4 linked regions of the Homo sapiens genome follow. The protein of the gene in region 1 interacts with the protein of each later gene in a biochemical or structural test. Each region holds a gene or a part of one and is shown in the gene's direction. Other genes may lie near its edges. The genes, in order: NSF, PLK2, RAMP3 and ASPSCR1.

The links.
Region 2: the proteins of NSF (region 1) and PLK2 form a complex in vitro, tested with the Homo sapiens proteins (one study listed by BioGRID).
Region 3: the proteins of NSF (region 1) and RAMP3 interact in far-western blotting, tested with the Homo sapiens proteins (one study listed by BioGRID).
Region 4: the proteins of NSF (region 1) and ASPSCR1 form a complex in vitro, tested with the Homo sapiens proteins (one study listed by BioGRID).

The regions. Positions count from the first base shown.
Region 1 is NC_000017.11:46,586,711-46,593,668, forward strand, and holds the start of NSF (vesicle-fusing ATPase), read left to right. Parts: upstream 1-3,958; 5' UTR 3,959-4,065; coding exon 4,066-4,077; intron 4,078-6,958.
Region 2 is NC_000005.10:58,457,071-58,464,643, reverse strand, and holds the start of PLK2 (serine/threonine-protein kinase PLK2), read left to right. Parts: upstream 1-4,557; 5' UTR 4,558-4,684; coding exon 4,685-4,954; intron 4,955-5,551; coding exon 5,552-5,659; intron 5,660-5,802; coding exon 5,803-5,919; intron 5,920-6,115; coding exon 6,116-6,245; intron 6,246-6,472; coding exon 6,473-6,560; intron 6,561-7,060; coding exon 7,061-7,156; intron 7,157-7,264; coding exon 7,265-7,463; intron 7,464-7,551; coding exon 7,552-7,573.
Region 3 is NC_000007.14:45,153,228-45,160,806, forward strand, and holds the start of RAMP3 (receptor activity-modifying protein 3 precursor), read left to right. Parts: upstream 1-4,563; 5' UTR 4,564-4,601; coding exon 4,602-4,659; intron 4,660-7,579. UniProt on the Homo sapiens protein: Accessory protein that interacts with and modulates the function of G-protein coupled receptors including calcitonin gene-related peptide type 1 receptor (CALCRL), calcitonin receptor (CALCR) and G-protein coupled estrogen receptor 1 (GPER1).
Region 4 is NC_000017.11:81,973,153-81,980,631, forward strand, and holds the start of ASPSCR1 (tether containing UBX domain for GLUT4), read left to right. Parts: upstream 1-4,476; 5' UTR 4,477-4,494; coding exon 4,495-4,596; intron 4,597-6,031; coding exon 6,032-6,087; intron 6,088-7,479. UniProt on the Homo sapiens protein: Tethering protein that sequesters GLUT4-containing vesicles in the cytoplasm in the absence of insulin. Modulates the amount of GLUT4 that is available at the cell surface. Enhances VCP methylation catalyzed by VCPKMT.

The DNA.
Region 1 (6,958 bases):
ATTTTTCCCCCAGTTAAATTCTGTTACCACAACCATTACAAACAAATGTCTATATAACCAAAATGTTAGTCAGCCCCATTCCAATGGAGCACATTTTAAGTGATGTTTAATGGGACATAATTTGAACATAAAATTCTATCTGTGCACTGTTTTCAAGTCTTTGAATCAGGCCTCCACCTATAGATGTTGGTTACCTATCAGGGAGCAACAGGTGATGCTAAGGATCACTTTGTAAAAACCAGGAATCACATCCCTGTAACTGACAGGAAACTGACTATATTCATCAGGGTTCTCCAGAAAAATAGAACTAACAGAATGTGTATATACATAGGAGGAAATTTTGTTTAAGGAATTGACTCGTGTGATCGTGGAGACTTTGGGAGCCCAAAATCTGATGGGAGAAGCTGGCATGCAGGAGGCCCAGGGAAGAGTTACAGTTCTAGTCCACAGGTAACCTGCTAGAGAATTCCTTCTTGTTCTGGATGAGTTTGGCCTTTTGTCTATTCAGGCTTTCAAGTGATTGGATGAGGCCCACCTACATTATGGAGGGCAACCTTCTTTACTCAAAGTCTACAGATTTAAATGTAAATCTCATCCAAAAACACCCTCACAGAAACATCCAGAATAATATTTGATCAAGTATCTGGGCAACATGGCCAAGCCAAGTTGACACAGAATTAACCGTCACACTGGATCACAAGGGCTGTGTTCAGCAAGAACTGACCTTGGTCAAACCCTGCCCCTGCCCTTATGCCCCACTCTTCTTCATTCTGGGTCCTGCTATTTCCATTTTATCATGTCTTCATCTTCTTTCCCCACCTTTCAGGTACCTTTCCTCTCTGACCCTATCCCTAGACTCACCTCCTACCCCCCACTCAAAGCCCTTCCTTCCTTAAAAAATGATGTTAGTCATTACACTTTAGGATTTAAATTAATCATTCTGTTAGCCGTCTTACTAACTTTCTCACTGTGAAAGGAAAGCATATTAAAAGAATTTCAGGGATCGACGAAGAGCTGAGGGAGGTATTTTTCTAGGAAGAGAAAGTGACTAACAGAAATCAAGACAAAGGGGGACAATCAGATTTTTCAGATGACAGAAAGCAGGTAAACTCTAGAGATCTAGAGAACTAGCAAATGGTCTCTTCAGGGTGTCATCATTGCAGTAAATGAGCTCTAGCTATTTCTGTCTTTATTCTTCAGGGTATTCAAGATTGCAGTTACTTAGGAGAGACAGAGCATCTGACTGATTGAACTTGGGTTCTGTATTCACTCCTGGGCCAGGGGGAGGCAGGGTACCTGGTCTGACAGTCCTTCCAAGGCTGCATGAACCAGAGGAGCTGTTACCAGAAAAGGGCAGAGTGAATTTGGGGCAGCAAAAACATTTATTGCTTATCGACTATCACTGCAAGGATTACTCAGAGGGTGATGCAGAATCAGCACCCCTCTATTTCTAAGATGACCTTGAATGTCAGAGCAAGGCACAAACAGGTTGCAGAGACATGTGGAGTATCTGGAGCACTGTCTCAGGATCCTTCCTCTCCTGCTGGATGCTAAGGACCTTAAGGACAAGAGCTATCTTTGCTTGCAATTTATTTGGCAGGCCCTGCAGGGCTGTGCAAATGATTCTATTTAATTTTTACTACTTGTGAGAAGGCACAGAGGGCTTTGAGAGGGCACAGAGGGCCTCTTATAATGGGTAGATATGCACATTAGCTGATACACTGGAAACTTTCCAGCAGGCATATCCTTCCAAGATGATAAATATTCTTCCTTGTTGGAGAAATTGAAGACATTTGTACTTGCAATCTAGCTTATCTAGTAAAACAAGACAAACTAACCAGTGATAGGGAGAAACATGTTTGCATTATTTTCCAACCTTGAAAATAATGTCAGATTATTGGACTGAGAACCAATGTCATCTTCTGGATCTGGTAATTATTTGGACAAAATCTCTTTGATTCTAGGTTCAAAGTCAAGGTGTCAAAAAAAAAAAAAAGGATACAACTGTTAAGCTTATTTAATTATACCTCTCACTGTACAAATAAGGAAACTAGGCCAGGCGTGGTGGCTCACTTCTGTAATCCCAGCACTTTGGGAGGACAAGGCCAGTGGATCACCTGAGGTCAAGAGTTCGAGACCAGCCTGGACAACATGGCAAAACCCTGTCTCTACTAAAAATACAAAAATTAGCTGGGTGTGGTGGCAGGCGCCTGTAATACCAGCGACTTGGGAGGCTGAGACAGGAGAATAGCTAGAACCCGGGAGGCGGAGGTTGCAGTGAGCCGAGATCATGCCACTGTGCTCCAGCCTGGGTGACAGAGTAAGACTGCGTCTCAAAAACAAACAAACAAAAACAAATAAGGAAACTGGGCTCAGAGAGATGAAGGTACACAGGTGATGGGTAGATAGGGACAAAGAAAAGAACCTAACCCTTTGGACTCCCCAAGCCATTCTAATATTTGTTTTTGTAAGTTAGTAGCTTCTGCACGTTAGTATGTCAGAACTCAACTAGTTTCCTATCTTTCCTGATAACCTCTCCGACCCACCCATGATTTAGCTAACATCTGATTTGGTCAACCAAGCACCCTGGTCCTCAGGTTCAGTGTGAGACTTAATGAAATAGGCGTGAATTTTTTTTTTTTTTTTTTTTTTTTTAGACGGAGTCTCGCTCTGTTGCCCAGCCTCGCAATCTCAACTCACTTCAACCTCTGCCTCCGGGGTTCAAGCGATTCTCCCACCTCAGCCTCCTGAGTAGCTGAGATCACAGGCGCCCGCCACCACGCCCGGCTAATTTTTGTATTTTTAGTAGAGACGGGGTTTCACTATATTGGCCAGGCCGGTCTGGAACTCCTGACCTTAGGTGATCCACCCAAAGTGCTTGGATTACAGGCATGAGCCACCGCGCCTGGCTGGCATGAATTTTTTCTTCTGTCCCTAGTTCATCTTCAGGTCACTGTCTGATTTTATTAGTTCTCAAATTTAAATCACTATGCATGCTCAGCTCTTCTAGTTATTTCCCTTCTTTCCTCATGTTGGGAAAAAAACCCCGATTTATTCTAATTGTGAGAAATGAAAGCGAACAAATCCTATCATTCCCTATTGTCTTGTGCAAATATGAAGAGAGATATGATAGTGGGGTAAATAAAAGCATCAGGGAATCCATTCGGCAGAATCTTTCTCCTCTCAGCGTGCTTGCAGTTAGATATTCTGAGATTCCAGTGGAGAAATGGTATGGTGGAAACATTGAGGTTCAACAAGGCTCAATTTAGGGCATATTTTATTCAGATTCTACCATATATATTGTCTAAAATGAAACAACACTGGGGAATGAAAAGGTTGGTCGAAGATGCAAGTTGCCTTTATTAAATAAAGACAAATATTTAATAAAAATAATGTATAAAAATAATCACAATTCACTTTCAAATCTGAAAATACTGAGTTTTCCAGGCTACACATAAATAAAACTGCCAACGATGACAATTCCAGCAACTAGGAAAACAAGTACGCCTACAAAGAAAAGTGAGAAAATTCATGGAGAATTTGAACTCAGAACCAACTCCTCGGAGCTGATCTTTTTTGGGGGAAGCCAGGGAACGCGCCGGGCGCTCTCATCAGCAAGACCATGTTTAAAGAGAGTGTGGAAGCACAGACCAAAATGGACATTCGAGGGCGAACAGCAGCTGGCAAAGGGATAAGTGATCCGAAGCATTAAAGCCCTTGAGACAAATTCCGGCGCGAACCGCCAGTGGGGGATGAGACTCGCAGGCGCAGCCCTCCAGGCCCCGGCGGACTGACACGCACGTTGGAAACGGAGTCACCCACCACAGCCCCGCAGCTCCAGCCAAAATGGCGCCGCCGCTCTGCCCACCCCGCGCACCCCAGGCGGCCGCCGAGCCCGCGCGCGCGCCCTGTGGAGCGAGGACGCCGGGGACGCGGCCAGGGACGCGCGCGTCCTCACGGCGGTTGCACGCCTGCGCGAGGGCGGGCGGCGGGGGCGCGCGCGCGGCGGGGGCGGGCTTTGCCGAGCGCAGAGCTGCAGCCGCCGAGCCGGACGTGTCCGCGAAGATGGCGGGCCGGGTGAGTGCCGGTCTGGGAGCCCAGGCTTGAGGCAGGGGCGCCGGGCTCGCGGGCACTCTGGGGTCCAGGCGGCCCCAGAGGAGTGGGAGTGAATCCGAGCAATGGGGCGCGAGGCCAGAGCGGGACTTGAGGGTAGCAGGGGAGCGGTGGCAGGGGATTAGCCCTCCTCAACAACTCCACCCCCCTCGAGGGGAGATGACCCCTCGTTACACGCGTCTGCTGCGCCTCCCGTCATCCTCCCTTCCCATCCCTTGGGGCTTGTTCCCTCGTCCTCCACACAGCCGCAGGGTCGCGGTCGCCGAAGCCCCCTCTGACGGGCTCTGGGGGTCTTTCCGCACCCCCTTGCGAGGGCTTATTAGGGGGCGCCGGAGTAACTGCCGGGAGCACCTCTGCTGCATTCGGGGCAAGGGGTGTAGGAAGGATCTTCAGGAACCCATGTCTGGCTCTTCACAAATTAAAGGTCGTTGGGAAAGAGGAGGGGGTGCCAATGACTTTTAGTGTTAAAGCCCGGCCATCTGGGGGACCTGTCAACTGTCGGGTCAGGCAGGAATTGGCTTTAGCTTGGAGTGAGGATGGATTTGGGGTGTCACGTTTTGTTTTTATGGATGACACTCGCTTCGAATGCAGCAGGATATGCTGTAGTTTCAGGGTTTTAAATTTACTTCCTCCTTTAGCCTTTAGGATCGTTGGGTAGGATGGGTTTGGCGAGGAGAGAGAGCTGGTTGAGTGCTGTATTGCAGTCTGCCTTGAGCTAAAAGCTCTCAAGGGATGAGTCCTGCCCGGAGATTACACTGGTCATAAACCTGAGGACATTAACTGCGTCATTGGGGGTGAAAGATGTGATTGACTGATCTATTTATAACAGAATTTTTGAATAAGTTTGCATAGATTTATGCATATATGCAAATGCCCTATCTGAAGGGACTTGTAGGTCATGAGATTCTAGAGTAAGAAGGGATCTTAAAGGTCATTTAGTTTGGCTTCTTTCTCTTCCTTTTCCCCATGGCCTCTCCTTTTAAGGCTAGTCCTTCTGCCAGTACTTCAGACCCTATCTGTATATTCACCTGCTCCTTCTTAACATAATCAAGCTTCTCTATCTTAAACCCTTCCCCCACCCCCACAGCTGTCACCTTTTCCCGTCCCAGTTTACAGCAGGAAATTTGATAGAGTTGTCTATATTTATTGTCTTCCATTTGCTTACCACCTACTCACCCTTCAACCTACTGCAGTCTGATTTCTGCCCCATCATCCCACTGAAACCTGTCCCTCAACTTAATTGATACCTTTCAATCCTTATCTTATTTGATATCTCAGCAGCGTTTGACGTTGTTGACCATGGCTTCCTTGACGGAAAGCACTCTTCACATGTGTTCTGGAATGCCTCGCTCCTGGTTTGACTCAGACCTCTCTTTTGCGGCCTCACCCTCCTCTACTTTGTTATTCATTGCTGGTATTCCTCAAAGGCCGTCTTCTCACTCTCAATTTCCCGCTCAGGCAATTTCTTCTAAGCCCATAGCTACAACTGTCTATATGCCAGTGATTCTCAATATTTTACCCCCAGTCCAGACCTGCCCTTTAAGTTTCAGGTTAATATGTCCAACTGCTTATTTAAAATCAAGGTCCCGAAACGCAGCTTTTTCAACTCCGAACCCAGGATCTTAGCCCACCTAACTTGTGTAGATACTCCTCGACTTAACGATGGGGCTACCTTCCGATAAACCCATTGTAAGCTGAAAGTATCAGAAGTTGAAAATGCATTTAATACACCCGATCTACCGAATATCATAGCTTAGCCTAGCCTGCCTTCCTTACACATGCACAGAACACTTACATTAGCCTACAGTTGGGCAAAATCATCTAACATAAACCTATATTATAAAATGTTGAATACCTCATGTCATTTATTACTGTGCTGATAGTGAAAAACAGAATGGTTGTGTAGGTCTTCAAAGTACAGTTTCTGCTGAATGCCTATCACCTTTGCACTATTGTAAAGTTGAAAAATGTTAAGTCAAACCATTGTAAGTCAGGGACCATCTGTACCTATCCAGTGAGATAGGAATATCTCACTGAATGATACCATCATCCACCCAGTTATATAGGCTGGGAATCTGAGGGAGGGAGAGGGTGGGTAACCCTTTATGTCTCTCTTTTGCTGTACCCATGTCCTCTGCCCTATCCCCCGGTAAAATTTGTCAGAGTTCTGCTCCTGCCCCCCATAAAGGTATTTAATTAGGGCCAAAGACTCTGGTTTGGGGGAATGGTTGCTTTAGACTAGTTCCAAGTCACCCACTGGACTATCTGGATTGGTCACATGGGTTCTGTCATTTTAACCTAAAAATCTCCAGTCTGTCCACCTTTCCACATCTTCATTTTTACCTCCTTTTCCCAAACTACCATCATTTCTGGTCTGGACTACTGCAGGAAGCTTCCAAGTATTTTTTTGTTCGTTTGTTTGAGATGGAGTTTCGCTCTTGTTACCCAGGCTAGAGTGCAATGGCGTGATCCCTGCTCACTGCAACTTCCGCCTCCTGGGTTCAAGCCATTTTCCTGCCTCAGCCTCCTGAGTAACTGGGATTACAGGCGCCCACCACCACACCCGGCTAATTTTTGTATTTCTAGTAGAGACGGGGTTTTACCATGTTGGCCAGGCTGGTCTCGAACTCCTGACCTCAGGTCATCCACCTGCCTTGGCCTCCCAAAGTGCTGAGATTCGTGCCCGGCCTCCCAAGTAGTCTTCTTAGAGCATGTGGCCCACCTCCAATTCATTCTTGACCTTCATTGTTCCTTCCCGTGCCTATTACTACTTAAACCCCTCCTCAGCAGCATCCCATTACTTTTGGGAGAAAACCAAATCCTTAATGAGGCCTTCAGGACTCTT
Region 2 (7,573 bases), on another chromosome or scaffold:
TTGTTACATAGGTATACACGTGCCTTGGTGGTTTGCTGAATCCATCAACCCGTCATCTACATTAGGTATTTCTCCTAATGCTATCCCTCCTCTAGGCCCCCACCTCCTGATAGGCCCCAGTGTGTGATGTTCCCCTCCTTGTGTCCATATGTTCTCATTGTTTAATGCCCACTTATGAATGAGAACATGCAGTGTTTGGTTTTCTGTTCCTGTGTTAGTTTGCTGAGAATGATGGTTTCCAGCTTCATCCATGTCCCTGCAAAGAACATCAACTTATCCTTTTTTATGGCTGCACAGTATTCCATGGTGTATATGTGCCACATTTTCTTTATCCAATCTATCATTCATGGGCATTTGGGTCAGCTCCAAGTCTTTGCTACTGTGAACAGTGCTGCAATAAACATACATGTGCATGTGTCATTATAGTAGAATGATTTATAATCCTTTGGGTATACACTCAGTAATGGAATTGCTGGGTCAAATGGTATTTCTGGTTCTAGATCCTTGAGGAATGGCCACACTGTCTTCCACAATTGAACTAATTTACACTCCCACCAACAATGTAAAAGCGTTCCTATTTCTCCACATCCTCTCCAGCATTCGTTGTTTCCTGACTTCTCAATGATCGCCATTTTAACTGGCGTGAGATGTATCTCACTGTGGTTTTGATTTGCATTTCTCTAATGACCAGTGATGATGAGCTTTTCTTCATGTTTGTTGATAGCATAAATGTTTTCTTTTGAGAAGTGTCTGTTCATATCATTTGCCCACTTTCTGATGGGGTTGTTTTTTTTCTTGTAAATTTGTTTAAGTTCTTTGTAGATGATGGATATTAGCCCTTTGTAAGATGGATAGATTGCAAAAATTTTCTCCCATTCTGTAGGCTGCCTGTTCACTCTGACGATAGTTTCTTTTGCTGTGCAGAAGCTCTTTAGTTTAATTAGATCCCGGCAAATGGGCACGGTTCTTTTAAATAAAAACTTATTGACAAATGTAAGAATTGGGCTTAATTTGGCCAGGGTTTTTATCATTTGTTGATGTGTCATGCATCATTTTATATATGAGATTATATCCATAGGATAAATTCCTAAGTAAGAGAATACATTCATTTCTAAATTTGATAGATTTGGCCAAATTACTTTTCACTGAAATTATATCAATTTCCATTCCCAACAGCAATATATGGAGTGCTGCTTCCTCAACACTTCAGCAGTTGAGCATGTTCACGGCAACTTTTGAGGGTTTTGCCAATTTTGTAGGAAAGGGTGCCTCAGTATATCTTTCATTTCAATTTCTCTTCTGAAGAGTGAAATTGAGCAAATGTAAGAACCATTTGTTTTCTGTTGGATAATTGGTATTTTATCCAATTGTAGGAGTTTTTATATAACAGGAAGATAAGCTCTTTCTCTGTGATGAGTTGAAAATAATTTTTCCAGTGTTATTTATCCTTTGACTTTATTTGTGGTGTTTTGTTATTTTAAATCAATGAAAGGGTTTTGTTTCTATATAGTTACATTAATGAATCTTGCTTTTTTTTTTTTTTTAGGGATTCTAGATTTTGTAAATAGTTGAAAGTTCTACCACATTCAGGCTATGAAAGAATTCTTTCATATTGTCTTAAAATTTCACGTATTTCAAACTTTCATTTGCTTGAAAATAAGCCAGATATGAAGCATGGATCCATTTTTTCCTTCCTACTGGTTACCAAATTGACTCCATGATATTTAGTAATTAGTCTACTTAATAGAAAGCGCATTTATTTCCTTTTTTGTTCTATAGACTACAATTTTGGTTCTGTCCACATGATGGCACCACAACCCCAAAAAAATCATGTTCTCAGTCGGAAAGAAGACAACATAAGATTTACACAGCGTTAATATTTTATTAAATGCCTCCATGTTGTGGCAGACAGACCTGAATTTCACATGGAATGTTCAACAGTTTATCAAATACTGAAGTCCATTTGGTAAAGATACATACCATAGTGTATGCTAATCAAAGAAGAAATTGACATTTAAAAAAAAATCATGACAATCTATTCTTCAGTTTTTTATCTTAGGCCACAAATGAATACACATACACATACACACATATGTATACATATACAGTTTATTATCAACCATAAAGACATGGTGTGTAAACTAGCTTTGATAAATTCTAGTAATATTTTCTAAACCTGCAAGCCTTCTACATCTTAGAGAGTAGGTTTGCACAAATCTGGGAAGCAAAGGTCACCCCTGGGCTTATGAATAAAGAGGATAATTACGTAATTCTGAATTTCCACCCCTAAGCCCCACCCCTTATTCCATCCCTGACAATCTTGGGGTTAAAGTCTATTGTCACTTATGAGAAACATGCCTGGACTTGCCCTGCACTCTTTAAAGAATCAAAAACGGAAGTGACAGCAAAGACTTTCCCTTTCTCCTCGCTAATGGCAAAGCCTTTCCCTTTCTCCTCTCTAATGGCAATAAGCCTCTTTTCCACATTATGCTGGAAGTATTTGAGACACAGTATTTTTGTAAATGTTCGATTAATGTTGATACCACACATACCTAAATTTGACAGTGGACTGCAGCAACTTTTTGTATGTACCTTCCAGGGATTCAATAATCTGGTATTCTAAATTTCTCTGGAATTTAGCTTCAAAAAACTATTTACCATATCCTGTTAACATAGGTAAAAAGATTCAAGTGTGCTGCTAATTAACCTAACCTCGATGATCTAGTAAAAATATACAATAATTACCTAAGTTCTCCAAGCCTCATCTATAAAATGGGAATAATAATGTAGGAGATGAGAATATGCCACCCCAAATATGGCCCTGGGATAAAGATTATTTTAAGATAATTATTTTGAGAACCAGCAGACCCAGGAAATGCTCTAAAAATGGCATATTACCCTTTCGTAAGGGAAACGTACATTCACTAAAAAAAAAAACAACAAAAACAAAAAACAAAAAAACCCCACAAAACTCCATTTGTAAAAGTGTCTCCTCTGTACCAGGAAGAATGACTCTAAATCATGAAAAACTTATCAATGAAGAAATAAGAAACCCCACTCCTGTTTACCGTACATTTCCTGGTCATGATTCCTTAACTTGCCTGCCCCACTCTTTTCTTTTGGTTTAGCTAAAGATAGTATTTAAGCCCGATTTTAAACCATCTCTAATTTTCCTGGTTATCTCCCATGTATATATGAGACGTATATGTTAATAAGCTTCTTTGTTTTCTTGTTAATCTGTCTGGTTACAGCGACCCAGGCCAAAACTTTGAAAGGTGGAAAATTATTTTTCCTTCCTTACAATATTTCTCTCAGAATTGTTGTAGGATGAAATAAGGCATTTAAAAATACTGCACAGTCCTCAATAAATGTTACTCTATCGTAATTAGAACAAGAAAAACAAACAAAAAAACGTGTTCCTAGATTAGTCAAACTGCACAGCAAAATCTGGAAATGGGAAACTAAGCTGTGTTTGCACTCACTGGCCTACGCTCCTCTCTTCATCCTACCAATCTCCCTACCCCAGAAAGTCTCAGATTGACTCTCCAGGAACCAGGGCAGCTCATGAGCCATCTCAACAGATGCATTCGGAAGAAGTCATAGATGACTCTGATTGGAAACTCACAATCGGCATCGATGTTTAGTACTAGTAACTGTCAAAGGCCCACGGTTGTCAACCGCTGCCCACTTCGACACCTAACGGCATTCCGGAACATTCCACAAGATGGCGCCCTTGCTTTCCAATCTTCGGGCTACGGGCGGAGGACGCCTTGCCAGGACGCCGACCTCGCTCTGCAAGGTTCAGGGGCCGACCTCAGACAGAGGCTCGCTCTAGGGGCATGGGCGGGGGCCAGACGGGCCTCGAGTGGGATCCTGGCACGGTTGGCCGATCGGCCCGGGATCCCGGCTGCGGGCCCGTGTCTGCCCTAGCGCGATGGGCTCGAATGCCCGGCTCCACGAATCCCGGCCTTTCACCCCCACGGCCTCTCGGCACTGCCCCAGCTAGACACCAGCGAGCTCGTCACAGCGCGGGCAGGCACTGCGGGGCAGCTGCAGACGAGCCCTGTCATACGGCCGGAGGAGGCCTCGCCTGCCCGTGCGGCGGGCTCCGGGCACCCTGATACCTTGACACAGGAGGCCCCGGGCGGCCGGGAAGGGCTGTGCGGGGGAGGGACTGCGTCTACACCCGCGCCCGACTCGCTCGGGTCACGGCACTGCCCTGCCACCAGGCGGCTGGGGCGGGGGTGAGGCCAGGCGTCGGCCCTCGCGATTCTGTTTTGTACGCTGAGGCTCGGAGCCTTCGAAGAACGGGACAGCGGGGCCCACGGACGGCTCTGAAGGCCTTCCCGCGGCCGCAAGAGATCTCGGCGGCCGGCGTTTGAGGCGCGCGGCTCCGCTGGGAAGCGAGACCCGGGTGGCGGGACAAGACTTGCTTCCCGGCCACGCGCGCTCGGCCGGCCGTGGGGCGGGGCATAGGCCGTGACGTGATGTCGCGTATCGAGTCTCCGCCCCCTTCCCGCCTCCCCGTATATAAGACTTCGCCGAGCGCTCTCACTCGCACAAGTGGACCGGGGTGTTGGGTGCTAGTCGGCACCAGAGGCAAGGGTGCGAGGACCACGGCCGGCTCGGACGTGTGACCGCGCCTAGGGGGTGGCAGCGGGCAGTGCGGGGCGGCAAGGCGACCATGGAGCTTTTGCGGACTATCACCTACCAGCCAGCCGCCAGCACCAAAATGTGCGAGCAGGCGCTGGGCAAGGGTTGCGGAGCGGACTCGAAGAAGAAGCGGCCGCCGCAGCCCCCCGAGGAATCGCAGCCACCTCAGTCCCAGGCGCAAGTGCCCCCGGCGGCCCCTCACCACCATCACCACCATTCGCACTCGGGGCCGGAGATCTCGCGGATTATCGTCGACCCCACGACTGGGAAGCGCTACTGCCGGGGCAAAGTGCTGGGAAAGGTGACAAGCGGAGGGCGCCGGGCTGCCGGGCGGGCGGGAGGTCTGTCCGGGCGACCCCAAGCCGGGCAAGCCCGCGGGGTCCCTCGCCCGCCGCTTCCGGGTTTTTCGGGGGTCCGATCCCAGCGCGAGGTGGGCTCCTCACCTGCCCTCTGGCTTTTGTGCGCCGGCAGCGCTGGGGATCGGCTTTGCATTCTTAGCCTCAGAACTGTGTGTCTCCCGCAGCCCAGAGAAATGCATCTTGAGTCTGGAAGCGAGGGCTTTCTACATCAGACCTCTCTCCCTCTATCTGCTCCCAGGGAATTTTCCTGACAAGTCTCATCAGAGATTATTTTTCATGTCTCCCCGTTCCAACTCCCTCCATAAAGCTCCCCTTTATAAAAGAAGAAGAGAAACTGTTTGAACTTGCTGTTTCCAGCAATGCATTTCTCTTCATGAGGGAGCTTTAACGAAGTCGAATGCCTCCCTCTGTCCACCCTCCTCCATTCCTCAATTTTTTTTTTTTTGCTTTTCTTTCTTCCCATTTATTTATTTATTTAAAATATCTGCCGTCCATTTTTGTGCCATCCTCAATTCCGTCTCGGCTTTGTTTCCTTTCAGGGTGGCTTTGCAAAATGTTACGAGATGACAGATTTGACAAATAACAAAGTCTACGCCGCAAAAATTATTCCTCACAGCAGAGTAGCTAAACCTCATCAAAGGGAAAAGGTGCGTATGACTCTTGAGTAAAGTATTTTCTTTGTGTGCAAGGATGGCCCTTCCCTGTTAGGAAAATGTCTTCTGCATGTGTAATCACTGGCTTTTCCGAGGTGACTGGAAGCTAATAAGCCTTACCTTGCTTTTTCATTTAGATTGACAAAGAAATAGAGCTTCACAGAATTCTTCATCATAAGCATGTAGTGCAGTTTTACCACTACTTCGAGGACAAAGAAAACATTTACATTCTCTTGGAATACTGCAGTAGAAGGGTAAGTGTCAACTCCTATTTGAGAACATTTGCTTACCCCGAATTAACATGGTATTCAAAGAGTATTTTATCTGGGATTTTAGCTGTGGCAGCACTTACACTGCAAAGTTAACTTTCATTGCTCATCCTGCAAAGGGAAACCAGTGATTTTGATAACTGTTTTGACAGATTCTCTTTTTTCCTTCTCCTCTTCTTAGTCAATGGCTCATATTTTGAAAGCAAGAAAGGTGTTGACAGAGCCAGAAGTTCGATACTACCTCAGGCAGATTGTGTCTGGACTGAAATACCTTCATGAACAAGAAATCTTGCACAGAGATCTCAAACTAGGTAAGTCATTGACGCCAAAAGCTGAGTTTTGTGTTAGAGTTCTTTTTTCTCTCTCTGTTTTTTTTTACATATTAATGTTCTTAATTGGGATCTCGTGTCTGCAATCTTGCTTTTGAATGGGCGACTTTCATATAACAATTGGCTGCCTGGCTCCAAAGTGGATGTGTGTGTACTTGGTTAGAACGCATTTTCAAAGGGATTCACATTTTGTTTTGTTTATCGTCTAGGGAACTTTTTTATTAATGAAGCCATGGAACTAAAAGTTGGGGACTTCGGTCTGGCAGCCAGGCTAGAACCCTTGGAACACAGAAGGAGGTAAGAGTCAGAAAGATGCATCCTAGTAGACTTTTGTGGAGACCAAATATGCCTTCATTATTTTGCATTTAATGTTTCAGAGGTCCGGTAATAAAATCTATAAATCATAGCAATGTTAATTTAAAGAAATACTTATTAAATGCCCACTATGGACTAGACAGAGCACCCTGTGCCTCTAAATTGATTATGAAAGCAGTCAATGAAGTCTTTTCTTGGCTTAAAATGTATAAAATGCCACGACGTCCCTGGCTTTAGTTGGTTAACAACACTTTGCATGTGGGCTAAAACAACGTGTGTGCATTTTTAAAAATTACCAAAACTCATTTGGTCAGATCTCAATTGAATTTTCAGATGCCAAAAGTCAAATGTTTCCAAATAGAAATTCAGTATAGATTTTAAGATTTTGTTTAAGATTTTGTCTCCCATCAAGTCATGTCAAGAGAACCAAGTTTAAGTAGTGGAATAGTTCCTAACACGATCTCAATATTTTGTCTTTCCAGAACGATATGTGGTACCCCAAATTATCTCTCTCCTGAAGTCCTCAACAAACAAGGACATGGCTGTGAATCAGACATTTGGGCCCTGGGCTGTGTAATGTAAGTAAATGCAGCAGAATAATTAAAAAGCAAATTCGGATTTAGATTTTAACACTTGAAAAGAGTTGCTTTATGACCATTGCTAAAGATGTGTTTCTTTGCACACAGGTATACAATGTTACTAGGGAGGCCCCCATTTGAAACTACAAATCTCAAAGAAACTTATAGGTGCATAAGGGAAGCAAGGTATACAATGCCGTCCTCATTGCTGGCTCCTGCCAAGCACTTAATTGCTAGTATGTTGTCCAAAAACCCAGAGGATCGTCCCAGTTTGGATGACATCATTCGACATGACTTTTTTTTGCAGGTTGGTGCACTATCTTTTTTTTTTAATTACCTGGTATTGATCCCAGTTACCTGACAGGTTACTGAAGGCTTTTTCTAATATTCCACAGGGCTTCACTCCGGACAGACTGT
Region 3 (7,579 bases), on another chromosome or scaffold:
TGCAGTTAACTTTGAGCTCACCAAGGTTCAAAGAAGCCAAGAGGTATGCTCAGGGCCCCAAACTTGCCCTGGCACCAGCTCTGAGTCTTTGCTTATGTCGCCTGGTGGGAGCAGGGCAGAGGGGGATGGGGTCAGCATGCTTAGGGTCAGATGATGTGGTGGGAGAGGGGAGGTTGTGCTCCAGGAAATGACTGTGCGTATTTTGTCCAGCAGGGGCCAACAATGTTCTGCCTGAACACACTCACACATTCCTCACGTGTGCATACACTTATGCCCCACACCACAGTCACAATCATGAGACACATAGATTCATATATGCTCCACACACAACACACATGAACACCCATTCATACACCACACACACACACCATCACCTCACAGCAGGTACACACACATCCCATACACACATGCCACACATTCGTGAGCTGCACAACACACCCACACAGGTACATATACTCATCAGTGCACACACATAAACTCTCACAACACATGCATTATATAAAACCCACCACATGCCACAAAATGCACTGTAGGAAAATGAGAAAGCAGAGACCAGCAGAAGGTAATGTAAATTAAACACCACTTTAAATCTTTCCAGAGCCAGAAATGACCACAGATAACATTTTAATGTATTTTCCTCAAGACATTTTCTGATAGGTTTTTCAAAAATAAAATAAAATGAAAGTAAACTTGCTTCATTGACTTAAAAAAGGAAATGAATGGCAGATGAATGGGTAAATGAAATGTGGTCTATCCACACAACAGAATATTATTCAGCCTTAAGAAGGAAGGAGGCCGGGCGCAGTGCTTCACACCTATAATCCCAGCACTTCGGGAGGCTGAGGTGGGCGCATCACCTGAGGTCAGGAGTTCGAGACCAGCCTGGCAAACATGGTGAAACCCCATCTCTACCAAAAATACAAAATTTAGCTGGGCGTGGTGGGAGGGCCTGTAATCCCAGCTACTTGTGAGGCTGAGGCAGGAGAATCGCTTGAATCCAGGAGGTGGAGGTTGCAGTGAGCCGGGATGGCACCATTGCACTCCTGAGTGACAAGAGCAAAACTATGTCTCAAAAAAAAAAAAAAGGAAATTCATCTCAGCCTCCACAGTATCTGAGACTACAGGCGCACCTCACCACACACGGCTAATTTTTGTATTTTTTTTGTAGAGGCGGGGTTTCACCATGTTGCCCAGGCTGGTCTAGAACTCCTAAGCTCAAGCAGTTAGCCCACCTCGGCATCTCAAAGTGCTGGGATTACAGGCATAAGTCACCACACCCATCCTAAAATGCTTGATTTGACGTTAAGTATTTTTTATTGCAATTAAACAAATGAGCAAACAAACGCAACAGGAGATGGAAGGCTGTGTCTTGATCCGTGGGAAGGTGGAAAACAGCTGAGGGTCAGAGGCACCCCTTCCTGGAATCTCCTTCATCACCCTTCTTTGAAGACCGGTCCTCTGTGTCCCTGGAGAGGGGTCACCGAGGCGTTGCTGCTGCCTCAGGGACAGAGGCGTAGTCTCATCGACAATGATACCGTTATTTCAGTGTCTGTCCAGCAGGGGGAGCCAGGTGCCCGGGAATGGCTTCCCTTGGCTCCTTCTCAACCCCCACCCTCCTGAAGTCTAGCCCCAGAGCAAGCAGAACCAGATCCCAAACCTCACCAGGTTCTGTGCTCAGGCCCTTGCCTGGACACGTGGACTCCGGGCAGAAGCATTACTTCCAGGGAGAGTGAAGGCCCAGCGGCCATGTGTTCCCCTGATCTGGTAGAAACACCAGGATGTTATTTCTTCCTCTTAGAAGAGGCCACTTGAGTGTCAAGAAAATGTTCTCTTACAACTATTTAAGAATAAGAGGAATCACAGAATAAATATCATGATAATGGTGAATCAGGGCTTGATCAGGAGAGAGACTACACCGCAACCTGAATGGGGAAGTTTGGTGTAAAGAATTATGAACCGGCCGGGCGCGGTGGCTCACGCCTGTAATCCCAGCACTGTGGGAGGTCGAGGCAGGAGGATCACCTGAGGTCGGGAGTTCGCGACCAGCCTGACCAACATGGAGAAACCCCGTCTCTACTAAAAATACAAAAATTAGCCGGGCATGGTAGCACAAGCCTGTAATCCCAGCTACTCGGGAGGCTGAGGCAAGATAATTTCTTGAGCCCCGGAGGCAGAGGTTGCAGTGAGCCAAGATCATGCCATTGCACTCCAGCCTGGGCAATAACAATGAAACTCCTTCTAAAAAAAATATAAATAAATAAATAAATAAATAAATAAAATAAATAAATAATTATGAACGCTAAGAGGGGATTCCTGAGAGGACCCCAGTGCACACAGGATCGCAGACACAGGGAATGGTGCCGGGGCCAGCACCCACCGAGGGACAAGCAGGGAGACAGGTGCTGTCCAGGGCACACCCCATGGTCAATCTCATTTATGGCGGCAGCCTTTCCACACTCAGGGTCGGGGGGATGCACCGTGGAAGGGGCAGGTCCCTCTCTCCCATGGCTCAGCTCCTCACAGCCTGTGTTAAACCCACCTGCCCTGCAGAGGCCATGGGCACCACTGGGCACAGAGAGGAGAAGTGAGGGCCCTGCCTTAGAGGGACCTAGGGGCAGTAGACACAACTCCCTGGGAGTTTGTTGGGGCATGGTTGGTTCCATGGAGGAGAGGTGTTGGAACCCAACTCTGTAGAATGGCCAGGGCTTCCCCACTGCAGAGCCAGGGTGGGGAGTCCAGGAAAGGGAGCATTGCTCCCTGGTGCAGGCTTGGGGGAACTGGCTGCCCCCCTCCCACCTGACAACCCCATCCTACTGTTCCAGCCTGCAAGCTATGTGCAACCGCCTTTGGGGCTGTGGGACCGAGTGGAGACTAAGACTCTCCTGGAGAGAGCTGTAGGGCCGAGTCTGTGTGGGATGTGGGTGGACACCTGGGCCTGGACCATCCTCTTGGTTTGTCTTGGCTGGTGTAGGGTGTGCGTGTGTGTAAGCCAGCCCCCTGCTGCCCTGGTCAGCTTGTTTTATGACCCCTGGCCTGTGGGCAGAAGGCCTGGCTGTGGGCACCATCAGTCTCACTAGAGGCTCTGTGGCCACCCCTACACCTGCTGCCCACCCCTCAGGCAGAAGGCAGGACAAATGATCAATTTTAATTAGTTTTGACTCCTTTGAATTAATTCTGGCTGTAATCAGAATTTCTTCAGTAAAAAAGCACAGAAAGTTCTTCTCCCGAATAAGGGTCTTGTTAAATAAAGTGGGTCTTTCTAAGCCAGGAGAAGTTCAGCTCAGCTCCTGGGAAGGTAGCAGTACCTACGGCTCAGAGGAGTGGAGGGCCCATCCATGTAGGAGCCTGGGCCTGTGCCCCAACCTCAGACCAGCATGTGCCCCCAGGGGTGGTGGGTGGGCCCTGGAGGGCAGAGAGGTGCCTCTAGCTGGCTCTCGGAAGTCCTGACCAGTGACAATTCTTAAGACACCATTAAGTGTCCACTGGAGCCAGGGCCTGTGCTAGGGGCTGAGGGTGACAGAGGTGACCCATCTGGCCAAGTGACCTGTGGCTGGAGAAACTGAGGCCCTCCTTCGCCTCAGGGACCCTGACACTCTTCAAGGCCAGGTCTTTGGTGGTGCCAGATACTCTCCTGTCCCTTGGTTTGCTTGTGGCTTGGTTCTTGGTGTGTGATACGTCTCTGTGTGTGTAGTTGCCACACCCTCCAGTCTCTCTCATACACACTGTTTCCCAAGCATACACTCACAAACACACCTTGTCTCAGACTCAAACACACACATGCCACACACACACCATACATCACACACTCCATGCACACACATGCATCTACACACACCCCACATGCACATCACACACACGTACTCCATGAACAACACACACACGCACACACACAGACGCACACACACACACCCCCCAACCTCTTTTATGCACTTTCCTGACCTTTGGAGACCTGGCTCCTAGATGTATCTCTGCTCAAAGTTCCCCTCCCTGCCTGGGGGCAGCTCTGGACTCTGGTCTACTTTCGGCCAGGGCACACCTAGCCCACTCCCAGGTCCACCTTCCTCCAGTCTACCCCCAGACTCCTCTAGGCCATCATCAGCCAGCGCTTCATCCTCACCTCAGCTCCCTCCCCGGTCTACCCCCACCCTCTGCCCCTGAGCCTGGACGGAAGTTCCCCAAGTCTCTCCAGCCTGCATCCCAGCCCACCGTCAGCCGGCCCCCACGCTCACCCCAGCTCACCTCCCAGTCTGCCCCTACAATCTGCTCCCAAAAAGCTCCTTTGCAGCTCAGCACCCCAGCCCCGCCCTCAGAGCCCATCAGCCGGCACCCCACCTTACCCCAGCTTGTCCCCAGCTCGAAACCCTGCCCTCGCCCCCCTCTCACCCCGCTGAGACTCCAGCCGCCCCCATCCCTCCCACCCGGCGCGCCTGCAGGGACTGCACCCCACATCTGGAGGCAACGGGGCACGGCCGCAGGCGTGGTCTGGGGGTGCGGCCTGAGGGCGGACCCCCTGAGGCCCCGCCCCACCCCAACCCCAACCGGGCGTCCCCCAGCCGCGCCCCCAGCGGGACCGAGCGTGACCCAGCTGCGGCCGGCCAGCCATGGAGACTGGAGCGCTGCGGCGCCCGCAACTTCTCCCGTTGCTGCTGCTGCTCTGCGGTAAGGGGGCGACGGCCCGCACCGGGGGCGCCCCCACTCCTCGGGGTTCACCGGACCCGGGTGGACCCGCGCCTTCCCGCACCTGCGCCGCGGTCCTTCCCTTGCCCCGGAGCTCGGGAGGGGCGCACAGTGACCCTGGCGGGATTCCCAGGCTCTGCGGGAGGGTTCCACCCGGGAGAAGCTGAAGGCGAAGGACTCTGGCGGGCAAGGGAGGCACAGGGCCCCCTCCGGGGTCTTCTGACGGCAGGGTCCGGCAGCCCCCGGTCCTTCTAGTTGTGATGTCCCCCCACGCCCCGGTTCTGGGGTCGCCTCAGGGTGGGCGAGAAGAGGTGGACCAGGTCTGGCTCTTTACCCCTTATCCCCCAGGGTGGGCTGTCTGTAAGGTAGTGAGCTCTCTGTCCTGGCATTGAGTGCCTGCCCACCACTCACAGGGGCGTGGGCGGGTGGACTCCGGACTGGGTAGCTGGTCCTCCCAGGGCCCCTCAGTGTGTGGACGCCTGTGTGTGTCCTGGAACTGGCTGAGAGGGGAAGCGGGGCGACTCTCTGAGCCATCCTCTCCTAATGCCTTCTTCGGCAAGAAATCAGGACTCTAGGAAGAACCATTGCTCACAAAATGGAAATAGATTAAACTAAAAGCTTGTTTTGAAGTACCTTGCTAAAGAAATTATCCAAGAAAAAGTAAGAGAGAGAGAGAGAGAGAGAATGTGTGTAAAGGCTGTTGGGGAAGAGTGCTTGCTGAGGGCTGGGGTCCACTGAGTGGTGACTGAGCCTGGCCAGTTCTGGGGGGGACATTGGTGATGGAGGGCCCTGGCCTGGTGGTCCCCAGTTTCCCTGGCTGTAAGATGCAGAGTTGGGCCTGTTTTGATGATTTGGGATTTGGTACGGGAGGTGGGAAAAGGGTGGACCAAACTCAGTGGTCATTTTCCTTCCATTGAAGAGGTCTTGGTGTGCAGAACTTGTGTGGCTTCATTTGGTGTTCCAGGGCTGGAGCCTAGGATGTGGTGGATTTTGTGTTGAAGTGCAAAGGTGGATGGCAGCTTCTGAAATCAGGAGCATGCTGATTTGGGATTTCAGCAAACTTCCAGTGAGCGCCCCTTAGGTGGAGATCTTGGTCGCTATAGTGGAAGGAAGGTCCTCTCAATTCATTCTGGGAGAAGCTGAGGCTTTCCTGATCATCTCCAGTATCAAATTGAGAAGGACCACAGGCTTCCGCCTGCACAGAATCCCCCCTTAATAATCCTGTCTCTCGTGGACCCAGTTCCTGAGGGCCACTTCTTTGTCCTGTTGTGTTGGTCCTGACTGTCCCCCTCCAATGGGACATGGGTTCACGCTCCCTGGCCAGAATAGGGACCAGGTCCAGCTTCTCAGCAGACCCTCCCAGTGTTCGACTGGCCAGAGTGAGATTCAGGGAGAGGTAAAACTTGCTCATGGTCCCAGGCCGATGTGTCAGAGGTATCCGGGACTGGAACCCACATCTGCCCTGGATGCTGCTGTGTCTGGAAGGAAGGAGCTGGGTGGGTTCCTCTTGACTGAGGACTAGCTCAGGAGGACCAGCAGGGAGGGTGCAGGCCTCTGGGGCTTCTTTGAGAATTCCAGACCTTTTTCCAGAAAGCATTTGATGCTGTGTGGGGCTGTGGGGATGCGAAGTCCAGCAGTTGTCTACTCAGCAGGACACTTTGCTGTGGTGCCCAGCTCTTGACTGGACTCTTCTGGTCTGGGTGAAAATCCTGATCATGATCCCAAGATTATAAAGCACTCACTGGCCTCAGTTTCCGAGCTGCAATGTAGATGTAATAATAGCAATCTGTAAAGGGCTGCTGAGACCGTCAGTTTGATTCCATTCAGTTTAGTCCCTATCACCTTGTGTTGGGCATGGGATTGTGGGGTGGAAGGGTTCATGCTTAAACAAGGGGAGGTATGGGAAGGCACCCACCAGTGACTGCACTGGGCCTCATGAGGCTCACTCACAGCACCCAAAGATGGAGCACCATAGTGTGTGTGCCTGTGTGTGCAAGCGTATGAACATGGTACCATCGTTTTTATCATTAAATGATGTCCTGCTGCCATGTTACCTGTGGTCATATTGATTCTACTGAATCAAGTGGGCCCAAGGGCCATGGTTGGATAGCAGTAACTCTGGTGAATTAAAGACTTGGAGGTGGCCGGCCGGGTGCGGTGGCTCACGCCTGTAATCCCAGCACTTTGGGAGGCCAAGGCGGGCAGATCTCGAGGTCAGGAGATCGAGACCATCCTGGCCAACATGGTGAAACTCCGTCTCTACTAAAAATACAAAATATTAGCCGGGTGTGGTGGTGCATACCTGTAGTCTCAGCTACTCAGGAGGCTGAGGCAGAGGAATCGCTTGAACCTGGAAGGCGGAGATTGCAGTGAGCCGAGATCATGCTATTGCACTCCAGCCTGGTGACAAAGCGAGACTCTGCCTCAAAAAAAAAAAAAAAAAAAAAAAAAAAAAAAAAAAAAAAAAGACTTGAAGGTGGTGATTGGCCAAGAAGAGGCCCATAGATTTTTGGCACTGGAGGTTCCTTGGAGGTTATCTGACCTCCATGCTCTTACCTATTCTTCATAAGGAAACAGAAATCTGGAGGTTAGAGAGGAAGTTGCCCAACCACAGAGACCAGGGGCAGAACCGCCCAGAATCCACAGCCTCCCAAGGTCGACTGACCGTGGCCCATGGCAGCCACTTGCCAGTCTCGTCGATGCTCTTTCTGTCAAGGAGGGGGAGAGCGCCTGTGTTTCATTTCCAAATGACTAGCCACAAAAGCCCTTTCTGGCGGAAATGCATCTGTTTGGCTGTTTATCATCTCTCAGTGGCGTCTGGAAGTCCCTGAGACAAAAGAAACACAGGCCGGCATGTTCTTTGTTTCCCAATGAAACCAACCAAAATGGATTTCTATTTTGA
Region 4 (7,479 bases), about 35 Mb from region 1:
TGGGTGCGGTGGCTCACACCTGTAATCCCAGCACTTTGGGAGGCCGAGGCAGGCGGATCACAAGGTCAGGAGATTGAGACCATTCTGGCTAACATGGTGAAACCCTGTCTCTACTAAAAATACAAAAAATTAGCCGGGTGTGGTGGCCGGTGCCTGTAGTCCCAGCTACTCGGGAGGCCGAGGCAGGAGAATGGCGTGAACCTGGGAGGTGGAGCTTGCAGTGAGCCAAGATTGCGCCACTGCACTCCAGCCTGGGTGACAGAGTGAGACTCCGTCTCAAAAAAAAAAAAAAAGAAGATAAAAAAAGGTTAACTAGGGCAATTTAATAGAATTCAACCAAATACAAATATGGAATGAGGGAAGAAGGGGGAGAAGGCTGAGGTGTGGCTTAGAAATATTCAGATGAATTCATCACACTAATTGTGTCCCCTGAGAGGGCCCAGAAAGCAGTGACATCCCAGTAGCCATGAGCACACTCAGCACCCAGAACTTGGTCTCTAAATCCCATTTCCTTGTAAAAGGGATTGGGGTTTCTCTGAAAAATGGCTGACTTCAGGGCTTGGGCAGAGAGGAGATGCCCAAAGAATAATGGAAATGCCAAAAGGATGCAGGAAAGATGTCCACACTTGGACAATTAACTGTGGATTAACTCAGAGTATGATACCAACATTAGATTTCCCAATTTTGTATGAAATTATGGTGGCTATATAAGAGACTGGCCTTATTTTATTTATTTATTTTTTTGAGACTGAGTCTCACTCTGTCGCCAAGGCTGGAGTGCAATGGCGTGATCTTGGCTCACTGTAACCTCCACCTCCCACAATCAAGCAATTCTCCCACCTCAGCCTCCCAAGTAGCTGGAATTACAGGCACCTGCCATCACGCCCAGCTACTTTTTGTATTTTTTGTAGAGATAGGGTTTCACCATGTTGGCCAGGCTGGTTTTGAACTCCTGACCTCAGGTGATCCACCCGCCTTGGTCTCCCAAAATGCTGGGATTACAGGCGTGAGCCACTGCACCTGGTTGAGACTGGCCTTATTCTTAGGAAAGAGAAAAACTGAAGTATTTAGTGGCGAAGGTGCTCAATGTCTTTACTGCAGCCTCGACCTCCTGGGCTCAAGTGATCCTCCTGCCTCAATCTCTCAAATCGCTGGGACTACAGGGACATGCCACCATGCCTAGCTAACCTTTGTATTTTTTGTAGAGCTGGGGTCTCACTATGTTGCCTAGGGTGGTCTCAAACTCCTAGGCTCAAATGATCCTCCTACTTTGGCCTCCCAAAGTGCTGGGATTATAGGTGTAAGCCACTGTGCCTGGCCAGAAAAAGTTTTTACATGTATATGGAGAGAGAGAAAGAGAATATGATAAAACAAATGGGGTGACATGTAAACACTGATTTATCTGGCTAAAAGATATACAGGAGGCTGGGCGTGGTGGCTCACACCTGTAATCCCAGCACTTTGGGAGGCTGAGGCGGGTGGATCACGAGGTCAGGAGATTGAGACCATCCTGGCTAACATGGTGAAACCCCATGTCTACTAAAAATACAAAAAATTAGCCGGGCATGGTGGCAGGTGCCTGTAGTCCCAGCTACTCGGGAGGCTGAGGCAGGAGAATGATGTGAACCCGGGAGGCGGAGCTTGCAGTGAGCCGAGATTGCACCACTGCACTCCAGCCTGGGCAACAGAGCGAGACTCCGTCTCAAAAAACAAAACAAAACAAAACAACAACTAGCTGGGTGTGGTGCTGCACACCTGTAGTCCCAGCTACTCGGGAGGCTGAGGCAGAAGAATCGCTTGAACCCGGGAGGCAGAGGTTGCAGTGAGCTGAGATTTCGCCACTGCACTCCAGCCTGGCGACAGAGGGAGACTCCATCTCCAAAAAAAAAAAAAAAAAAAAAAGATATACAGCAGGAATTCTTGCTTTTGCAAACTTTTCTTCTCTTTCTTCCTTCCTCCTCCCTCTTCTTCTTTCTTCTCCTTCTCCTTTTTTGAGACGGTATCGTACTACGTTGCTCGGGCTGGGGTGCAGTAGTTATTCATAGGCATGAATAGTGGTTCACTAAGGCTGGAACTTAAGTAATTCTCCTGCCTCGGCCACCGGAGTAGCTAAGACTACAGGTGTGAGCCACCTTGCTCGGCTAAGTTTGAAATAATATCAGGATAAAAGATCATCCCTCCTATCAAAAAAAGCATAGGAGCCAGCTTAAAGGAGGTCTCACTGGCCAAATTCGGACCAATTTGAGCATCAAAAAGAATGCTGACTGAATGAAAAAAATACATGAATTCATATTAATAAATATATATATTTCAAGATGGGGTTTCACTCTTGTCGCCCAGGCTGGAGTGCAATGGTGCGATCTTGGCTCGTTGCAACCTCCATCTCCCAGGTTCAAGTGATTCTCCTACCTCAGTGTCCCGAATAGCTGGGATTACAGGCACGCACCGCCATGCCCGGCTAATTTTTGTACTTTTTTTTTAAGTAGAGACAGGATTTCACCATGTTGGCCAAGATGGTCTCAATCTCTTGACCTTGTGATCTGCCCAACTCAGCCTCCCAAAGTGCTGGGATTACAGGCGTGAGCCACCGCGCCTGGCCATATTTAATTTTTTTTTTTTTTTTTTTTTTGAGACAGAGTCTTGCTCCGTCTCCCAGGCTGGAGTACAGTGGCGTGATCTCAGCTCACTGCGAGCTCTGCCTCCCGGATTCACGCCATTCTCCTGCCTCAGCCTCCCAAATATTTAATAACTTTTTAAAGAAGGGGAAGCTTGACCGAAAGTGACTATAAATGTAGAAGAAACAATAAACTTGGGAAGCCATGATTTTGCAGCTTTACGGTTTAACACTGAATCTACTCATTAACTGATGCTAAAACTGTTGGGCAAATGGTTATTGGGAAAACTTGATGCTTGTGGTCTCAGAGAATGACCTCACGCATGCCTTAATTACTCCACAAGGAGCCACGGACCTTGACCATGGAGGAATTCAGCAGACCCAAAGCTGACCAAGTGGTTCAACTTCACGTCCTCACTCATGGCCACGCTGATGTCCTGCACCTCCTGCTGACTTGTCACCTCCCTTCATCATTGCCCCAAACGTTTAACCAAGGATCCAGACTGTGGGACAGTCTAAGGAAAATAGGAACAGACTCTTCAAAAACGCCACTAAAGAATTAAAACCCACCAGGTGATGTGTGGCTCAGTAAGGTTCTGAGGTTGCACAGAGCATGGGACTGGCTGGCTGGATGGGAGGGCTATGGCTAGCCTGGGGCTTTCCCCAGGTTTCTCCAATGTACATAGATGTCCGTGTTTGTCAGCATACAGGTGTGTGTGGGTGACATGGATATGTCATCGACAGGAAGGCACAACAGCACCCATGCAGAGATGTCCTTAGACTCAGCAATGACTGCCGGGTGCGGTGGCTCACGTGTGTAATCCCAGCCCTGTGGGAGGATTGACTGATAACTGCACCAGTTCCCCCTTCCACAGGCTACTGGGCAGCTGAGCCCTAGCCAGGAGTCCGCAGAGACAGGCAGGCACATGGAGAGAGGAGTGCCAAGGCCCGGCTGAGCCATGGAGGTGGGGGGCGGGGCGGAACACGTGCGAGTGCTGTCCATGAGTGGCCCAGGTGCTGGGAGCTAAGCACATTCGACGGCTGCGAGTCAGGAGGGCAGCTCCTTCTGGAAGCCTGGAGCTGGTGAGGCCAGGTGCTTTCCCTGCTGCGGTGGCTGGCGATGGGAGTGTTTCCTGAGGCTGCCACCAAGCCCCTCCTCAGCATGGGTTGGTGCGGGAAGTCCTTGAGTGCCTGTGGGTCGGCAGGAGCTCCGGTGAGACTCAAGTTCGCTCACCCCACGGTTCTGAAACCGGTCTCCCGCCTTTCCTACCCTCAGGTTTAGGGACCGTCGCGGCAGCCCTAGGGCTGCCAGATTCTGCACTCCCATTTTAGGATGAAAGAAATCAGGTCTAGACTGAGGGCCACGAGTCCCAACACCCAGGGAGGATCCGTACAGGGGCGGGGGGACTGCCCCAAACCATAAGGTCAGGAGGTGGACGCTGACCACAGGGACAGGTGGGCAGGGAAGAGGCTCAGCTGCTGGAGTGGAGGAAGCCGGGAGGGTCGGGGGAGAGCAGGGCACCGAGCTGGGGACGTGTCAGGGACGAAGCGAGGGTGGGCGAGCGCGGACCGCTGGGACCCCGGGGCTCAGTGCCGCTCACCGGGGGTGACCGCGCGCCCAGCCCCGGCCCAGCCTGGCCCCGGCGAGCCCATCCAAGCCGCGCTTCCCGGAGGCAGAGGACGACCGCGCTTTCCGGGTCTGGCGCGGGCTTTGGCGGCCCAAGGGCGGGGCCGGGGCGCCGTGGGTGGGGAAAGGGCGGGGCCTGGCAGGACCCGGAAGTGCGCTGCGGCCCCGCCCCCTGGCCGCGTGGCTGCGCGTCCTGGCTGTTGCCGATAAAGTTGTTTGACGCCGGCCCGGCGGCGGGTCACGTGAGCGGAAAATGGCGGCCCCGGCAGGCGGCGGAGGCTCCGCGGTGTCGGTGCTGGCCCCGAACGGCCGGCGCCACACGGTGAAGGTGACGCCGAGCACCGTGCTGCTTCAGGTGCGGCCGCCCGCCCGGGGCGGACGGGTAGGCGGGCGGGGGGCGCTGCGCCGAGGCCCCGCCCATTGCGGTCGGCGTCCCGGTGTTCGGGGGCGGGGCCTCGGCGGCCAATGAGCGGCCTCCTGAGCGGCGGCCCCGCCCCCTGCTCGCCGTCACCTGCGCTTCCGCTGGGGTCCCGGGGGTCCCGGGGGTCCCGAGTGGGGGCGGGGCGGTGGCGAGCCTTCCCAGGGGTGAGGTAGAACGGCGCCGCGTGTCACCCGCATCGAGTACTCGGCGCCCGGCCGAGCCCAGCTCGCGAGGGCGCCGGGAAGAGGGAGGAGTGGAGCCCTAGACCCGCGTTCCCATTCCGGGGCGTCCCCCGGAGCGGGAGCCCGGGTTGCGCGGTGGCAGATGTCCCGGCCGTGGGGCCTGGAAGCGATTTTTGCCGAGTCACTCACTGCACTTTTACTTGGGCACCTTGTGACCGCGAATCAATTAAATGTAAAAGTATTGGCTGGGCGCGGTGGCTCACGCCTGTAAATCCCAGCACTGTGGGATGCCGAGGCGGGTGGATCACGAGGTCAAGAGATCAAGACCATCCTGGCTAAAACGGTGAAACCCCGTCTGTACTAAAAAAATACAAAAAAATTTAGCCGGGCGTGGTGGCGGGCGCCTGTAGTCCCAGCTACTCGGGAGGCTGAGGCAGGAGAATGGCGTGAACCTGGGAGGCAGAGCTTGCAGTGAGCCGAGATCGCGCTACTGCACTCCAGCCTGGGAGACAGAGCGAGACTCCATATCAAAAAAAAAAAAAAAAAGTATTTATTGAGCCTCTGCTGCGTGGGGGACCGTGAGGATCCGAAGGTGCACACGACTCGGAGTTTGCGGGAGCAGCCCACGGCGTGGGGTCCCCAGGCCTGGGCAGGTGGAGGGCGCAGCCAGGAGGCTGTTGGTGCCAGGCGTGCAGAGTGCGGAAGTGGGGCGCTCCCGCAGAGGCTGCGCGGGACCCCTTGGTGCAAGGCCACGGCTTTGGCTTTTTATGGAGAAGAGGGGCGGAGGCGGTGCAGGCAGTGGCAGCAGGTGCACAGAACCGTGCCAGAGCCAGGGGGTAGCTTGTGCTAGGCAAGTTTAAGGCAGGTTGCAGAACTACAGGGTTTGAAGGAGAGCCCAGGGTGTGTGCCAGGAAGATGCCCGTGTTGCTGTACTGCAGGGGAACTCTGAGTGGAGCTTTCCTACAAAACTGAGGGGATGGTGAAGAAGGGAGGGAGAGTGGACAGGATTTGCAGGTGAGAGCCTGCATTTGTTGCGGGGACCGTCCATAGTGTGGTCTTGTGCTTGGCTTTGCCTGGGCAGAGCCACCTGGCTCACCAGGAAGCTGAATGCCCTTGGCTGACCTGGCCCACTGCGCCCGCCAGCCCTGCACACTCAGCAGTTCACCATCCTTTCATCTCACCCCCAGGTTCTGGAGGACACGTGCCGGCGGCAGGACTTCAACCCCTGTGAATATGATCTGAAGTGAGTTTGCTCCAGCTCAGCAGCAGGGTCTGAGTATATCTGTGCCCCTGCCCCCTGAACATACTGGCTCTCACTTGGAAAAGCCCCCAGGTGGTTTTAAACAGTCATATATTCCCTCCCAACTCTGGAGACCCAAGGCCTTGGCAGGGCCACACTCTCTCCAAATGCCCTAAGGGAGAATCCCTCCTGCCTCTTCCAGCTTCTCATGGCTCCAAGCGTTCTGTGGCTTGTGGCCGCATTGCTCTCTGCCTCCGATTTCTTGTGGCCTTTTCCTGTTTTCTCTGTGTCTCAGGAAGACCCTTGTCATTGGATTTAGGGTCCACTTGGATAATCTAGAACGATTTATCATTACATCTTCAAAGACCAGGATCCCTAGTAAGATGTTCAGAGGTCCTGGGGGTGAGGACATTGACCCATCTTTTTTGGGGGGGCCACCATTCAACCCCCTGTAGGTTTTATTGCATTGAGTTGCATAAGTTCCCAGTGGGGCTCTGAGGGGAAAGAGCTGGCCGTGGAGAAATAGGATGCCTTGAAAACTGCAGGTGGATCCCTGCAGTCTCACAGCCCCTGGAATTACACGTACGCTTCTGTGTGGGGATATTGTTCCCAAGAGAGGGCTTCTGCCAGACTCTCAAGGAGTCTGAGACAGCAGAAGGGTCAGAGCCCTCATATGGATAGGATGTGCGTGTCTATCCCACACGCGAAGCTTTTCACTTTAAAGTCCTGTTTTCTGGTGTTTTTTTTGTTTTGTTTTGTTTTTGAGACAGGGTTTCACTCTTGTCGCCCAGGCTGGAGTGCAGTGGCACGGTCTTGGCTCACTGCAACCTCCACCTCCTAGGTTCAAGTGATTCTCCTGCCTCAGCCTCCCGAGTAGCTGAGATTAGAGGTGCTCACCAACACACCCAGCTAATTTTTATATTTTTAGTAGAGATGGGGTTTCACCACATTGGCCAGGACGGTCTAGAACTCCTGACCTTGTGATCCGCCTGCCTTGGCCTCCCAAAGTACTGGGATTACAGAGATGAGTCACCATGCCTGCCCTTGAAGACCTGTTTTTACAGTACTGTTGTCCTAACACTGGGGGCAGAGGGCAGGAGCTTGCCCTCCTGGCATTGCCCACCCTGCCTTACGAGGCTCTCCTGGGAGGAGTTTCTTAGGGGTGATACCTGCCAAGTCATTCCAGTCTTCTACCTTGTGTCTGGACCACGTGAGAATCCCAGGACCTGTGCTCTGAATGCCAGGTGGTCTTGGGCTTTCTGCCCCAGACCTTCACACCATCCTTCTCCAGTCTCTCTTGTCAACTGAAGAATGCGGTTCATATGTTTGGAAAGGAGGGCTTTATTTCTCATAACCGGTTGCAGCTTGCAGGGTGGCCATTCTAACAGGCTGGGA